Linked DNA regions of Homo sapiens: region 1 is linked to region 2. A link means that fine-mapping ties the variant in region 2 to the expression of a gene that starts in the linked region. Tissue or cell type: whole blood. Region 2 holds a variant in brackets; the other region holds the start of a gene. All regions are shown on one strand. Distances are between the middles of the regions.

Region 1 (8,108 bases), 55 kb before region 2:
TGCTTTGAGATTTTTGGTAAAAATGCAGATGTTTGGTAAGTATTTGGAATTAAAAAAACATAGACACAGGGTCTTGCTCTGTCACCCAGGCTGGAGTGCAGTGGTGCAGTCATAGTTTGCTGCAGCCTTGAACTCCTGGGCTCAAGAGACTGTCCTGCCTCCACCTTCCGAGTAGCTGGGACTACAGGCTCATTCCACCACACCTGGCTACTGTTTTTATTTTTGTAGAGACAAGGTCTTGTTATGTTGCCCAGGCTGGTCTTGAACTCTTGGGCTCAAGAGATCCTGCTGTCTCGTCCTCCCAAAATGCTGGGATTACAAGCCGGAGCCACTGAATCTACCCTAAGTATTTAATTTTATATATGGGAGGCTTCACTCTTGACCTCTAATTAAGGCCCATAAACTGGCCAGGCGCAGTGGCTCACATCTGTAATCCCAGCAATTTGGGAGGCCGAGGCAGGCAATCACCTGAGGTAAGGAGTTTGAGACCAGCCTGGCCAACATGGTGAAACTCCATCTCTACTAAAAAAACAAAAATTAGCTGGGCGTGGTGATGTGCGCCTGTAATCCCAGCTACTCAGGAGGCTGAGGCAGGAGAATCACTTGAGCCCGGGAGGCGGCGGTTGCAGTGAGCTGAGATTACACCATTGCACTCCAGCCTGGGCAATAGCACAAGACTTATCTCAAAATAACAAACAAGAAAGTTGAGGTGAATACACAGCTAGCAGGTGACAAATCCAGGATCAAATACAGAATCAATGCCTGATTCCAAAGTCCACTTTCTTTTTACAGCATTACTCTGCCTCAGTGGTCTCTCAAAGACACACAGAAAAAAGCAGGAGATAGCCTCTACCCTTTAAGGAAGGGAAACAAGGTGTATTTGTCAGGGAAATATGTGTCCTGATTTTCTTTCATCCAGATTATGAAAGATAATCTCCTTTACTTAAAGTCAACTGATTACAGAGGTTAACCACATCTACAAAATACCTTCACAGCAACACCTGGATTAGTGTTTAATTGAAAACTGGGTATTATAGCCTAGCCAAGTTGACACATAAAACTGACTGTTACACAAGATGCTGCTTATAAATGAAGTCATTCTGTCCAAGATAAAGAAAAGCTGGCCTGGCATGGTGGCTCATGCCTGGAATCCCAGCACTTTGGGAGGCCAAAGTGGGCGGATCACCTGAGGTCGGGAGTTTGAGACCAGCCTGACCAACATTTTGCTAATTTTGCTAAATGCAAAATTAGCCAGGCGTGGTGGCGCATGCCTATAATCCCAGCTACTCAGGAGGCTAAAGCAGGAGAATTGCATGAACCCAGGAGGCGGAGGTTGTGGTGAGCCGGGATCGCAGCATTGCACTCCAGCCTGGACAACGAGAGTGAAACTCTGTCTCCAAAAAAAAAAAAAAAAAAACCTTCCACATATGGATAGAGCTATAAGCAAACCACAAAACCACAAGTGGGTCCTGCTTACCCCTGTGGGAAATTCAGATCAATCAGGACCTAGAAGATTTGTGACCAGAAAATATGTGCTTATGTTTATAAACTTTTAGCCAAAATGTTGCCCGTTTCCTCATTGTGAAGAAAGCAGGAAAACAAGAAGAGTTTGATTTTTTCCATAAGATGGGGAACTGCTTTGTCAAAATATTGATGGAGTGACTTGTGGCTTCCATATGACAAAACACAAAACACCACACTGCCTGGGCACGCACCATGGCTCCTCTCCCTTCCACTGCCCCTAACAACTTGGTCCTTGGAGTAGAATGTGAAGATCCCACTCCTGCAGGAACGCAGTCCACCCCACAGAGCCATCTGCCCCTCCCTCGGATACCAGCTTGTAAGCCGCTCTAACTCATTGTTCTCTCGTAGCCTGGTCACCCTTGGCTCAGGGGTGAGGTTACAGGCAATAGTCACTGGCACAGAAGGAAGAAAGGTGTTTCCTTCTTGTGAAGCCAAAAGCAGTGACAGGACCATCCTCTTTGTGGAAGTTTCTGGGTAAAGCCATTAGAATTCCCTTTTTTTCTGCAGTATTCACCCATTCTTGTGATCAGGCAAAGAGTGGCTTCCCCCACTGGTGAAGACAGTGCCCTTGGAGACTCTTAAGGCTTCTCTTTCAGGTTGTGCATGTTTAGGATGGGAGCAGATATTCAGATGGAGAGGAGCCTCCATTAGTTACAGGACGAAGACTATCATAAGATGCCCATTAGACCTGAGAGGCCAGTAGGCATAGAGAGACTGATGAAGATGGGCGGTAAGGGAGGTTGTAGCAGAGAGAATGCATGGTATCTCCCCTCTCAATCCCCTATTGGTTTCCAAAAGGCAAAGGCTGGCCTCATTGTTTTGGCATCAGTAGAAGAGAAAATTTAGATATTTCCAGAAGCAGCTCTGGCTCCAGGCAGGTAGAAAGATCTTGCTGAGCTGGTCTGCTGGAAACATGGAGGTGGGGGCAGTGATTTACCTGTGTGCTTTTCACCATTCCAGCCATCTTCTTACAAATGAAGTGACGCAGATGCAAGGTGCTGCAAGGCCCACCTCCTCCTGCTCTGACAGGCAGACAGGAAACCAAAGCCCCTATCTGAGCAGCCTCTGTCTCTCCCATTCACCTCCAGCTTCCCATGTGGACCTTTGCCTTTTCCTTCTTGGATGGTGGAAACTCCTCCAGATGTCAAGACTTGCTGTGAATAAAGTTTTAAGAGGAGGTCATGTATCCAAACTGATACATGTGTATTTCTTCCTGGGTAGAGGGTGTCTACAATCCTTGGGATGGGAAAACATCATGTAACCTGATCATACAATCCAGAAAACATGGGCCACTTTGGATCTTTGAGGGACCAGTGTGTAATTGAGGGAAGTTAGGTCATAAGAGCCAAATCACCTTCCCTTGACTGCAGATAAATCCATTAAGGCTTGCCTTATGCTAATGACCTTGTTTTGAATTAAAGTCACAATGTTTTCTTTTTAAAAAAAAAAATTCACTCCTCCAACTTTGCCATTAAGTACTGCTCCAAACCCCCCACTCATCTGCCAATGGGTGATGCTCTTTCCCCATGATCATTATATATCTCTGCATCCCCACAAACATCCAGGGGAGGAGATGTGGGAAAAGAAGGGCCTGTGGGCTTTAGAGTTATGAGTAAGCATGGCAGGAGCAGATACAGAGGAGGGAAATCTGCCAGCTGCCACCCTTGAAAGCCAGCCCATTTCTTCTGAGCCCACAGCCAAGCAGGCATACCTGGAAGGGTGAGGGAGTGGAGGGCCGGCTTTCACTCTAGATCCCACCTGTGTTCCCACACCCAGAGTGGCCAAGAGCAGTCTCTAAAATACGCCAACCCATGATTTCTCAAAAGTAGGGATTCTTGTCTTATGGAATCAGTGCAGCGGGGGTGGGTGTCAGGGTGGAATTAGGTCTTCCTTTAAAAAGAAGTTTCAGTGCATAGTTATCAACATCACTACTGCACAAAGAAAAATAAGCCTTGCAGCTTAGAACAAAGGGTAGCAAAGTATTCAATCACCAGGCAGGTTTGTAATTTTGTTTCGTTTTGTTTTTTGAGATGGAGTCTCGCTCTGTCGCCCAGGCTGCAGTGCAGTGGCACGATCTCGGCCCACTGCAAGCTCCACTTCCTGGGTTCACGCCATTCTCCTGCTTCAGCCTCCCGAGTAGCTGGGACTACAGGCGCCTGCCACCACACCCGGCTATATTTTTAGCAGAGACGGGATTTCACCATGTTAGCCAGGATGGTCTCGATCTCCTGACCTCGTGATCGGCTCGCCTCGGCCTCCCAAAGTGCTGGGATTACAGGCGTGAGCCACCGCACCCGGCCTGTAATTTTTTTTTTTTTTTTAATGTTTATACTTTCCTTAATCCTTTCTGGGAATAACCTCCTCTGGGACCACTTTCCTTCCTGTTCTATGTACCTCAGAAGCACAGGAATGAAGCCTGAAAAAATATTATCTTGCTCCCTAAGTCACTTTCCTTTCTGATCTAGTTCTTGGGTGATGAATGAAGGTGGAAAGTAGCGAAGGTTGCTATGAAAAGCTTGGACTTTATTACCAGGGCCACTGCATTTTCAACAGGAGTGTCAGGATCCCAGCAGTAATGCTTTTCCATGGATCAGCCAGACAGGCATAAGGGGAAGTTGGGAGACCAAAAAAGCCATTGACAGATTCCAGGTGAGCAATAAACCAGAATTTTGACCAACTAGACCAGCGCTGTCCTACAGAAATGTAATGGGAGCCACATGTTAAAGTTTAAATGTTTTACTAGCCACATTTAAAAAGAAACACATGAAGTTATTATTATTTGTTTTAGAGACGGGGTCTTGCTTTGTCGTCCACGCTGGTCTCCAACTCCTTGGCTCCCTCAAGCAATCCTCCAGACTAGGCCTCACAAAGTGCTGAGATTACAGGCCTGGGCCACTGCCCCCGGCCTGAAGTTAATTTTAATATTTCACCTAACCCAATATATCCAAAATATCATTTCAACATATAAAAATTATTGAGATTTTACCTCACCAGTCTTAGACATCCAGCGTGTGGTTTATGCATACAGTACATATCAATTCCACACTAAATTTTCAGCATTTAAAGGGAAATATGGTCCTGAAAAAAAAACAACAAAACAAAAAAACGCCTGTTTAAGGAGAAAGCATTCCACACTGCTTGTTTTAATATAATTAAAATTAATGTATCAATTAATAAATCAATAGCCCACGTTGGCTAGTGGCTGCCTTACTGGGCAGACCAGGTCTGGATTGTAAATACGTTCAGACGTTCCACGCAAAAGCAAAGTTCCCTGCAGACGCTCCATTAAGTTCTGGGTGCAAGGAAGCGCGGATCCTTCAGTTCTGGGCGTTTTCACCAGGTGGCACTCAGAACACCCTCACGTGACAAGCGTCCCACCCGGAAGCGAAATCTCCCCTTCTACAGAGTTCCTCCGGCGCTTCCTCCACCCCGGGATACACAGAACCTCATCTCCTACGGTGCTGAAGCCTGCAGCAGGGCAGGATGGGCAGGAGAGCAGAGCCGCGGAGTCTGCGGCGCGGGTGAAGAGCGGCGCGTAATTCCCGCAGCAAGATTGTTCCGCGCCCGCAGCCCCTGGACTAGCAGGATCCGAACCCCGGCGGCTGCGTGCTTATAGGCGCAGACGTCAGAGAGCCCGCGGCTTAAAGCGCGTCGCCTGGCTAGCGCCACCCCCTAGCCTTCTTCAAGGCCTCCAGGGCTGGGCCCAAGCGCCCGTCGACGGCACCCTGGGCCCAGAGGACTCGCGGGCCTCATCTCCAATGATTCAGAACTCACGTCCGTCGCTGCTGCAACCCCAAGATGTCGGAGACACGGTGGAAACGCTTATGGTGAGGGCACTGCGGGGAAGGAAGGGCAGGGGTCCGAACCGCGGGCTCGGGCCGGAGAATTCGGGGCGTTGCTAAGGCTCGGCTACCCTTTTCCGCGCCCCAGGGTGCGCTCAGGATTTAGGATGCGGCGGGAGAGGAGTCTGACTAAGGGAATTGAGAAGGGGGCAGGGAGTGAGGAGAGGCCAGGAGCTGCAGGCCAGCCCTGGGGGCAGGCGCTGTAGGGCCGATGTCCCGGTAAAGGGCGGAATTGCCGGGGCCTGGACTGGACGCGTGCCGGGGAGTGTGCCCGCGCGGCCCCCACAAGGTGCGAGTAGGCTGCCAGGTGGAAGGGCACCCGGGCAGATTTGGGACGGTCACAAGGCCTGATAATAGCGCTGACGCTGAGAAGCCGTTGATGCCGCAGCGAGCTGGCCGGGTAGCGCTGTGCGCCCGCGGGCGGCGGCCTACCTGGAGGGGCCAGTCGTGGCGGCACCCTTCCAGCCTGTTGGGACGGCGCGTGGTCCCCCAGCGACGCCACGCCTCCTCCGGCGTTCGATTGGTCATCGTGCCCGGGCCGCCGGGCCGCTATTGGTGGAGGCGGAGGCGGGGCTGGCGGCGTGGTTGCCCGGTAGGTGGAGTCGGGGTGCAACCAGTCTTTAGACGCTAAAGGCCTGAGGCCACTGCAGCTGCCGCAGCTCTCCCTCTGAGGTCTTGCGCCCGAGGTAGGGGCGGCTTTTATTTTTTTTTTTAATCCTTAAAGGCGGAGACGGCGGCGGTGGCGACTTTACGTTGACGTCTTTGAAAACCTGCTTACCTTTTTCAGGGCTCTCCAGCCCTCGCCTCCAGATGTGAATTGGACTTAGGATAGTTTTTTCAGGGCAGTAGGAATTGCTTGTGGATCCAGTTTGTACTCTTATGTGCTACTTATTTCGTGTGCGTATTATTGTTTATGCCCTCTTCTTTCTCCCCTTAAAAAGAAACTACTTTTTTATTTACCTTGAATATATTTTTGAGCTTTCTTTTCTTTTTTCTTTTTTTTTTTTTTTGAGACAGAGTCTCGCCCTGTCGCCCGCGCTGGAGTGCAGTGGCGTGATCTCGGCTCAACTGCAACCTCTGACTCCCGGGTTCAAGTATTTTTCCTGTCTCAGTCTCCCACGTTGCTGGGATTACAGGCGTGCGCCACCACGCCCGGCTAGTTTTTGTATTTTTAGTAGAGAGAGGGTTTCACCATGTTGGCCAGGCTGGTCTTGAACTCCTGACCTCAAGTGATCCGTCTGCCTCGGCCTCCTAAAGTGCTAGGATTACAAGTGTGAGCCACCGCGCTTGGCCTTGAGCTACTTTTTAAAAGTTAAGTTCACTCGCAAAGGATGTGTGCCATTCACCATTGACAAAAATCTTAAGACCATTCAGTATTACCTGTTGGGATGGTTTTTGTTGTTGTTGTTGTCTTGTTTTTGCCTATTAGAAGTTGATCTATACTGCTAGTATAAATAACATCTGCTCTGTGCTAATGGACTGGGAAAAGTACAAAGCTAAAAAAGTTATTGGCTCAATAACTTGAGCCAATAACATGTCTAATCACTGTGCTGTGAAATAAAAGACGTTAAGAAGATATTTCCTGCAATCAAGGGTGGGAAGGTCAAGGACAGCAGCAAATTTGTTTTAAAACAAATTCCACACAGCACCTGTGTGAGCACTGGGGAAGCAGCGCCTAACATAACTGCCCAGAAACTAACTGCAGGTCATTCCTATAGCCTTGCTGGAGCAAGGGGCCTGGAGAGAGGTGGGGGAGATTAACCCATCCTGGGATGAGTCATGCAGGGCCCACCGAGCCCTATCATGTGGGATTGTGCTCAAAGGGAGAGCATAAGGTTTCCTGTTAGGTGGTAAGATTCATTCCGCTGTCACTGCTGAACACCTACTGTGCACCAGGCTCCGAGGTCAGTTCTTGAGATATCACCATGAACAAGACAGGCAGGAGTTGTGACTATTCTGTCTTTGACACGCAGTCATAAGGGAGATGGGGACAGGTGTTGCTGTAGAAGCCGGAAGGAGAGGCACTGAACTTGGACATGGGGGAGTTAGGGAGCAAGACCGGTGCTAGGGCATAACAACATGTCAGAGTTTTCAGAGGTGAAAGTAAGGCGGAGTCCTCCAGTATGGCTGCAGAGTGTGTTAGTGGGAGGGTGAGAACATAGGCCAAAACGGTTAGCAGGAGCCCTGTGATACATGAAAGGCCCTGCAACCAGCAGTTTGGACTTTATCCTGAGAGGAATATGAACCAATTAAAGGGTATTGGTTTGGTTGGGTTTTTTAAAATTATAATTCAATTAGTATTAATGACAAATTTGTGGGATACTCTGTAGCTCCTAATACATTTGTCATTACTTGTATTTTTATTCCATCTTTTTTTTTGGTCTTGTTTTTAAGCTAGTAACTTCAAATTTCACAAAACATTATCTTTCATTGAAGGGTTTTATTTCTGAAAGCAGCATGATCAAATTTGCAGTTTTAAAAGATGACTCAGGCGGGGCATGGTGGCCCACACCTATAATGCTAACACTTTGGGAGGCAGAGGTGAGCAGATTGCTTGAGTCCAGGAGTTTGAGACCAGCCTGTGCAACATAGCGAAACCCCGTCTCTACAAAAAAATTAGCTGGGCACGGTGACACACACCTGTGGTCCCAGCTACTCGTGAGGCTGAGGTGGGAGGATCACCTGAGCCTGAGAGGTCATGGTTGGCAGTGAGCCATGATTGTGCCACTACACTCCAGCCTA
Region 2 (8,108 bases):
AAGGTCCACTTTTCCTTTCTGGAATTTAAACTGAAACTGAAAGTTGGCAACAGTGTCTTCCTCTCCAGGCCAATCCCTGCAGTGGGATGTGGGTCTCCTTGATGACGGCCCCTCTGTCCACACCAAAACCCTTGCCGACCATTGCAAAAGGCTGAGAGTTTTGAATTCTCTGTCCCTAAGAAAGAAAGGAAAACAGGGAGATCTTCACGATTATAAACTGAACCCTGGAACACCCCTCCTGTCCTTCCCCGAACAGGCCTGTGCCCCCTGCTCATTCTCCAGGTGCACCCCAAATCAAGAAAGCTCAAATTCCAGTGATGAGACTGGGTGCTTCCACTTGGAAGCTGAGAGACATCTTCTGTCTTCTGCTTCCCTGCAAGTCTTGGGCCTCCAATTAGTGGAGAGGGAAAGTGTCGCAGACGTGGGTGTGGCAGGAGCCCAGGTGGAGCCTCTGGTGGAGCGGAGGAGAGAGATGATGCTGCCTTTCCCAAGAACAAGCTCACAGTGCTGCCCAAAAGGCTCCTGGAGAGGTGACTTTGCCCAACAGGCCCCAAGTTGCTTACTTTCTCAGTCCTCAGGTTTTCACAGGGAAGAGACCCGCCACCCTCACTGCCCCCACCTCACCCAGGAGGACTGAGACTTCATTTGCTCTTCTCCTCCTTCGCTGGGTCCATTCCACAGTGCTAGTCTGAGAGGTGTGGTGTTGGGGGAAGACATAAAGGAGGTGTTTAGCCTTCTGAGGTGTGGTAGGGTAGGGGTGTTGATAAAGCCAGAGCCCCTCCTGTAAGGTAGGACTGGGTTCAGGGGACACTGACTTGGATTGTAATGCCTGAGGCCTCAGGGAAGGGCTCTGATCTCAGGCAAGACAGGGCTGGGCTCGGGGAGGAGCTGGATCCCTGAATTTTTGTGAGGAGATGTTTATTTCATGAATGTGTGTGTATGAGGTCCCTCTGTATCCCCGCCAATACTCTGGGCCTGTCTCTGTGACTCACTCATAGTAGAAGGGGAGGGTGTGGTTGGTGGGGTTTGGTTGAGCTTACCGTGCCCCCAGGGGATGAGAGAGGCACTCTTGGGGAACCCCCAGTAGGCGGGGTGCTGGTCTCTCTCTACCTCCTGCATCTGCCTGGTGGTGCCTCCTCTGGATCCCCAGCATCTCCTCGTTTCTTCAGGCCTCCCCCTTCTCCCTTGAGCCCTTATGTCCCATGTGATATTTTAGCTAGTTCCCATCCCATCCAAGGAGGCTGCTATCTGGCTCTGGCTGGGAAATAAACATGTGCTTTTGCTACCAACATCAGAATTGTGTTGTTTGTCTCAAAAGAGCACCATACTGGGGCAGCAGGTGAAGCACAGGAAGTTCTGGAAAACATCAACTGTCACACTCATCTCCAGGGAGAATATCCTTATAGGAACCCTGTGGAGAGGCCAGTGTGCATCTGTGAGAGGCAGGTGGGAAATTCACAGGATCTGAGTCAGGAGAGGAGGGTGACTACTCAGAGGGGTTCAAAGCAACACTTGTTATTCCTAGAGGGGTGTTTTTAAATGTGGCAGAGAAGGCCCAGTGTGGAGGCTGTTGGCCAAGGAGCTGGTCCAGTAGCCCTGAGGAATGGTGGCAGGGATTTCTGAGAAGGGTGGGGTTCTCAGCTCCAGCTGGTCAGGCCAGCTGTCTGGAAGGGTGGGAGCTTCTTGCACCAGTGTGTGGGGGTGCAAGCATCTGTCCCAGGTACCCAACAGCCCCTGGGAAGGGTGTTAGGCCCCTCTGCACCCCCACTAATGCTCTGGGCCTGTCTCTGTGACTCATAATAGGAGGGGAGGTGTGGTGGGGGCCATGTCTGCCCGGCAGGGCTGAAGTTATTTCTTTAGATCTCTCAATGACCCACAGAAGTGCATTCAGAGGCCTCTTCCCTGCTGCAAACAGACTCTAGACAAATGTAGAAGAGAGAAAATTGAGACAAGTGTGTCTTCCAGCTCTCCATCAGTAGGGGAGAAGACTCCATGACCCCCTTAGGGTGTATCAAGAGACTCCCTGTGCCACAGGCATCAACAAATCCACACAGGGCCTGGTGAGGGGAGATGTTTTCCCTGAAACTTCAGAAATATTCCTACACCATGGCCGGGCGCGATGGCTCATGCCTGCATTCCCAGGATTTTGGGAGGCTGAGGCGGGCTGATCACTTGAGGTCAGGAGTTTGAGACTGCCTGGTCAGGATGATGAAACCCCGTCTCTGCTAAAAACACAAAAATTAGCCGGGTGAGGTGGCACATGCCTGTAATCTCAGCCACTCAGGAGGCTGAGGCAGGAGAGTCACTTGAACCTGGGAGGTGGAGGTTGCAGTGAGCTGAGATCATGCCACTGCACTCCAGCCTGGGCAACTGAGTGAGACTCCGTCCTCCAGCCACCCCGCAAAAAAATTCCTACACCAAGAGCAGGCCCATCTGCAGGTACCAGAAGACTTTTGAGTCATTTTTGAAATTCACTTATTATACAATTTAGAAGATCTCAACCCACATATAACTAAGAAGTATGTGATATATCCTCATAGAGTTTAAGTATATAAATATATATACGCACACATACATAATTTTCTAAAATAATGCTATGTGTTGAACTGTTTTTGATATTTCCTTCCTCCCTGAGGTCGTAGAGTTTTTGTTCTTTTGACACCTTGGTTGACTTTATCATTTTATCACCTGAGTATGCCTCTTCAATTCATACATTGTTTTATTTTCCTGTTTTTTTAAAAAAACAACTTTATTGACATATGACATGTGACATGCCATACAACTTACCCATTTAAAGTGTACAACTCAGTAGTTTTTAATATATTCACAGAGTTATGAAATCACCTCCATAATCAATTTGAATATTTTCCTCCACAAAGGAACCTTATGACCATTAGCAGTTAGGCAACCACTCTTCTACTTTTGGTCTCTACATACATGCCTAAATGGAATGATACAGCATATGGTCCTTTATAGCAGGAATGGATATTTTATTTCTTTTTCTGGCTGAACAATACTGCACCGTATGGATATACTACTTTTTTCTTTTTTGAGACAGGGTCTTGCTCTCTTACCCAGGCTGGAGCATAGTGGTGCGATCATAGCTCACTACAGCCTCAACCTCCTTGGCTCAAGCAATTCTCTCACCTCGGCCTCCCAGAGTGTTGGGATTACAGGCATCAGCTACTGTGCCTGGCTGATATATTACATTAAAAAATAAAAAATCTGTTGGCTGGGCGTGGTGGCACACGCCTGTAATCCCAGCACTTTGGGAGGCTGAAGTGGGTGGATCACCTGAGGTCAGGAGTTCAAGACCAACCTGGCCAATGTGGTGAAACCCTGTCTATCCTAAAAATACAAAAATTAGCCGGTCGTAATGGCTCATGCCTGTAATCCCAACTACCTGGGAGACTGAGGCAGGAGAATTGCTTGAATCTGGGAGGTGGAGGTTGCAGTGATCTGAGGCCATGCCATTACACTCCAGCCTGGGTGGCAGAGTGAGACTCTGCCTCAAAAAAAAAAAAAAAAATCTGTTTGTCATTTGATAGACATTTGTTGGGTTGTTTCTGTTTTTTCGCTGTTATGAACAATGCTGCTATGAATATTAGTGTACAAGTGTTTGTGTGGACATTGTCCTTTCTTTTGCATATATACTTAGGAGTGGAATTGCTGGGTCATATGGTAACTCTATGTTTAACCACTTGAATTACCAGACTGTTTTCCAAAGTGGCTATACCATTTTACATTCCTACCAGCAGTGTATGAGGGTTACCATTTCTCCACATCCTCGTCAACACTTGTTACTATCTGTCTTTCTGATTCTATGCAGGCTAGTGAGTGTGAGTGTTCTCTCATTATGGCTTTGATTTACATTTTCCTGATGACTGTGTGCTTATTGGTCATGTGTATGTCTTAGAGAACTGTCTATTCAGACTCTTTGGCATTTTTTAGTTGGGCCAGCTGGTTTTTCACCTTCCTATAAATGGAATAATTGCACATCTTTTTGTGTGACTTGCCTCTTTCCCTCAGTGTTGTCTCTGTGCTTTTCATTCCTGGTCACCATGCTCCTGCAGGGTCTTCATGACATCAGTGTACTGCAATGGCCATTTGGACTGTTCCAGTTTTTGGCCATTATTAACTTGGTCACTTTGAACATTTTTGATAGATTAGATTAGATAGATTTTTACTCCTTAAAATAAGGAATAAAATAAATGGGCCTGCTCTTGGTGTGGGAATATTTTTTTAAGGATTTGGCTTAAAAAGTCCTTTATTTTAAGGAATTGGCTCATGTGCGGGTACAAGTCCAAAATCTGCAGGGT[A/G]GGCTGCTAGGAAACAGTTGAAGTTTGTCTCCCAAAGACAATCTTATGGCAGGATTCTTTCCTGCTTGGTCTGGAACTTTGGAATGGCTTCCACCAATAGGCCCTTCCTCAAGGACTTAAAGCTTTTACTGCTTAGCTGAGAGCAGTGACTAACGAACTCAAAAGCACTCCTTCTAACACCTTCTTTTCTATTTGGAAAACAGTTTCATAATGTACAAAACATGCTTACTGCAGCAGGATACATAAAAGATTAATGTTATCTTTGCTATCTGTTGAGTGAGAATGGAGAATCATCATTCATTTGTCCTTTTTCCCCCTAAGTTCCTCCCTCTCTCCCTCCCTCCCTCCCTCCCTCCCTGGGCGACAAGAATGAAACTCCGGAAAGAAAAGAAAAGAAAAGAAAAGAAGGAAGGAAGAGAGGAAGGAAGGAAGGAGGGAGGGAAGGAAGGAAGGAAGGAAGGAAGGGAGGGAGGGAGGGAGGGAGGGAGGGAGGGAGGGAGGGAGGGAGGAAGGAAGGAAGAAAGGGAGGGAGGGAGGGAGGGGCCAGGCACAGTGGCTCACGCCTATAATCCCAGCAATTTGGGAAGCCAAGGTGGGTGGATCACTTGAGGTCAGGAGTTTGAGACCAGCCTGGGAATGTGACAAAGCCCCGTCTCTATGAAAAATACAAAAATTAGCCAGGCGTAGTGTCGCATGCCTGTAATCCTAGCTACTTGAGTGGCTAAGGCACAAAATAGCTTGAATCTGGGAGACAGAGGTTGCAGCCTGGGTGACAGAGTGAGACTCTGTCTCAAAAGAAAAAAAAAAAAAGGAAGGAAGAAGGAAAAGAAAGAAAGAAAGACAGCCATAGTCAAGTTCAATTCCAGACAATGGCAATGATTTATTTATAAACATTGCATATTTTGTCAGAATTTAAAATGAAACTGGTAGGCCTCCGAGAGTTTCACTTTATTTGCAAGATAAGGGATTTGTTTATGTGATCTCCAAGTTTTATTTCCTCCCAAATAGTACGTGGATGACCGGGCAACAGAGTTCCCCAAATGATCTGATAAAACTTCATGTGGGAACCAGCGAAGAAAGTAAGGCTGCCTCCCAGGGTCAGTCAGCTGCATGGAGGCAGGATGAAGACTGGTACCTGCACCTCTGAAAAGAAGGGCAAAGCCTTCTGTGCATTGCACTTCCAGGCATGGATCACACTAATGCAGCCTGGTTCATTTCTCCCTAGCTGTGCCTTCAACAGCAGCTGACAGGTGATGGGACAAGGTCTCTAAAAAATTTCATATGGGGGTCAGGCTGCAGGGTAGAGCAAAGGTTGTCGAGGTCTGAAAAACCTCTGACTACACCGGCCTCCAAGCCTGCTCAGATGGCCCACACACTCGGGGAGCTCTTCTCAGTCACATCAGGTCAGTGCTGTTTTTTATGAGTCCTTGAACTGTGCATGTTTCTCATCATCCATGCTAATCTAATGTGGGCTCCAGAAGATAATCATTGTAACGAGAGGATGCTTAATGTTGTGATTGAAAAAACTGTAAGGCCTACAGCTTATGGATTATATAATAATGTAATAGTTATTGATTCAATCATTCATTTACCCCAAATCTATGCAACTGGGAACCCATAATGAGCCAAACTTTTTGCTAATTACTAGGGCAATAATGGCCAGAATTAAGTAATTTCAGATAATAAATCACCTTTGCTCAGCTTTGGGACTAAACCCTCTGTGAAACCAGCAGACAATGTCATCATTTTCTCCTGCTTCCCTCTCCAGATTCATTCCATTTTCTTCCTATTAAAATTCTACCCTCTAGGCATGCAGCTCACCTTGAGGGTCCCTGATCACTCTCCCTTCTAGGACTTCACAGACACTCTCCTCTTTTCTCTGCAGCTTTTTGTTCCATTTTTGCATATGGCAGCTTGGACAGTTTTCTTTGGAGAGTGGGAAGAATAACATATTTTTGTTTTATTATTAAAAAATACATTGTCCAGGCCAGGTGCAGTGGCTTACGCCTGTAATCCCAGCACTTTGGGAGGCTGAGGTGGGTAGATCATTTGAGGGCAGGAGTTCGAGACCAGCCTGGCCAACATGGTGAAACCCCGTCTCTACTAAAAATACAAAAGTTAGCCGGGCGTGGTGGCAGCTGCCTGTAGTCCCAGCTACTCGGGAGGCTGAGGCAGGAGAATCACTTGAGCCCAGGAGGCAGAGATTGCAGTGAGCTGAGATTGCGCCATCGTACTCCAGCCTGGGCGACAGAGTGAGACTGTCTCAAAAACAAAACAAAACAAAACATTGTCCAGTGCAGTGGCTCATGTCTATAATCTCAACACTTTGGGAGGCTGAGGTAGGAAGATTGCTTGAGCCTGGGAGTTTGAGGCCAGCTTGGGCAACACAGGGAAACCCGGTCTCTACAAAAACTTAAAAATTAGGCAGTGTGGTGGTGCATACCTGTAGTCCCAGCTACTTGGGAGGCTGAGGCGGGAGGATCGCTGGAGCCCAGGAGTTTGAGGTTGCTGTGAGCTATGACTGCACTACTGCACTCCAGCCTGAGTGGGAGAGTGAGAACTTGTCTTTTTTTTTTTTTTGAGACGGCGTCTTGCTCTGTCGCCCAGACTGGAGTGCTGTGGTGCAACCTTGGCTCACTGCAACCTCCGCCTCCTGGGTTCAAGTAATTCTCTGCCTCAGCCTCCCGAGTAGCTGGGATTACAGGCGCCCACGACCATGCCCAGCTAATTTTTTGTATTTTTAGTAGAGACAGGGTTTCACCATGTTGGTCAGGCTGGTCTGGAACTCCTGACCTCGTGATCCACCCACCTCGGCTTCCCAAAGTACTGGGATTACAGGCGTGAACCACTGCGCCCGGCGGAGACCTTGTCTTTTTTTTTTTTCTGTTTTTTTTAAAGTTTCAACAAAAATGAAATACCACCTGCTGATAACTCTAATAAAAAGAAAAATATATAATAGGTATTTGCTTTAAAGATTGTTTTTTTTTTTTTTTTTTTTTTTTTTTGAGGCAGGGTTTCACTCTGTTCCCCACGCTGGAGTGCAGTGGTGCAATCTCGGCTCACTGCAACCTCTGCCTCCCGGGTTCAAGCGATTTTCCTGCCTCAGCCACCCGAGTAGCTGGGATTATAGGTATGTGTCACCACGCCTGGGTAATTTTTGTATTTTTAGTACAGATGGGTTTTCGCCATGTTAGCCAGGCTGGTCTCAAACTTCTGACCTTAGGTGATCCACTCGCCTCGGCCTCCCAAAGTGTTGGGATTACAAGCGTGAGCCACTGCACCCAGTCCTAAAGATATTCTTGAAAAAATCATAATTGCAGTTGTTTACATTGTTGTGTTGCCAGCTCTCAGTTATTATGCTCATATTCTTTATTCTATGTAATATGTGTGGAAAAAATTTAAATCCTAGGTTGCTCCTGGCGTAACTCTGTAGACTCAACATCTGGAACTCTTTCTCTATTTTCAAGTTAATGTATTCTCAGAGCATGCAAAATAATTTGAATGACTGCCTAAGGAAGCACTAATACATGCTAAAACATTATGTTTTCTATAGCTAAAGAGCCCTTTGCAGCCACAGTTTTTTCAAATATTCCTAGAAAACAAGATCTGGCTGAACTGAAAATACTGATAGTATAATCAATAAGTTAGACTTGTTAAACAAAGAGTAAAGAAATGCAACATCTGAATTCTTTAAAGCCACAAGCCAGAGGAACAGATCTAAAGCACTGACTACTTAAAGCATTTTCTATCTTCAAACTTCTAGAAAAACAAATATTACAGAAGCCTTCT

What was found. PIP is the estimated chance that this variant, and not a neighbour inherited with it, causes the effect.
Region 1: it holds the start of SLC25A38, and the variant in region 2 is fine-mapped to the expression of SLC25A38 in whole blood (TOPMed, PIP above 0.99).

Annotation. Positions count from the first base shown.
Region 1 is chr3:39,378,443-39,386,550 of GRCh38, forward strand. It overlaps SLC25A38 (solute carrier family 25 member 38), which reads left to right and starts at 4,928. Exons shown (of 7, transcript NM_017875.4): 1 at 4,928-5,351. The coding sequence starts at 5,283. LOC105377037 (a long non-coding RNA gene) reads left to right here. Exons shown (of 3, transcript XR_001740661.3): 3 at 2,485-2,710. LOC105377644 (a long non-coding RNA gene) reads right to left here and starts at 5,883. Exons shown (of 3, transcript XR_007096252.1): 1 at 5,799-5,883; 2 at 4,511-4,602; 3 at 989-2,678. RefSeq lists enhancers at 5,237-5,416, 5,437-5,536, 5,547-5,596, 6,067-6,136 and a silencer at 5,827-5,976.
Region 2 is chr3:39,433,801-39,441,908 of GRCh38, forward strand. No RefSeq gene overlaps it. Among named protein-coding and RNA genes, the nearest start is that of SNORA62, 27 kb to the left of the region's middle. The variant A/G (reference allele first, on the strand shown) is at 4,320.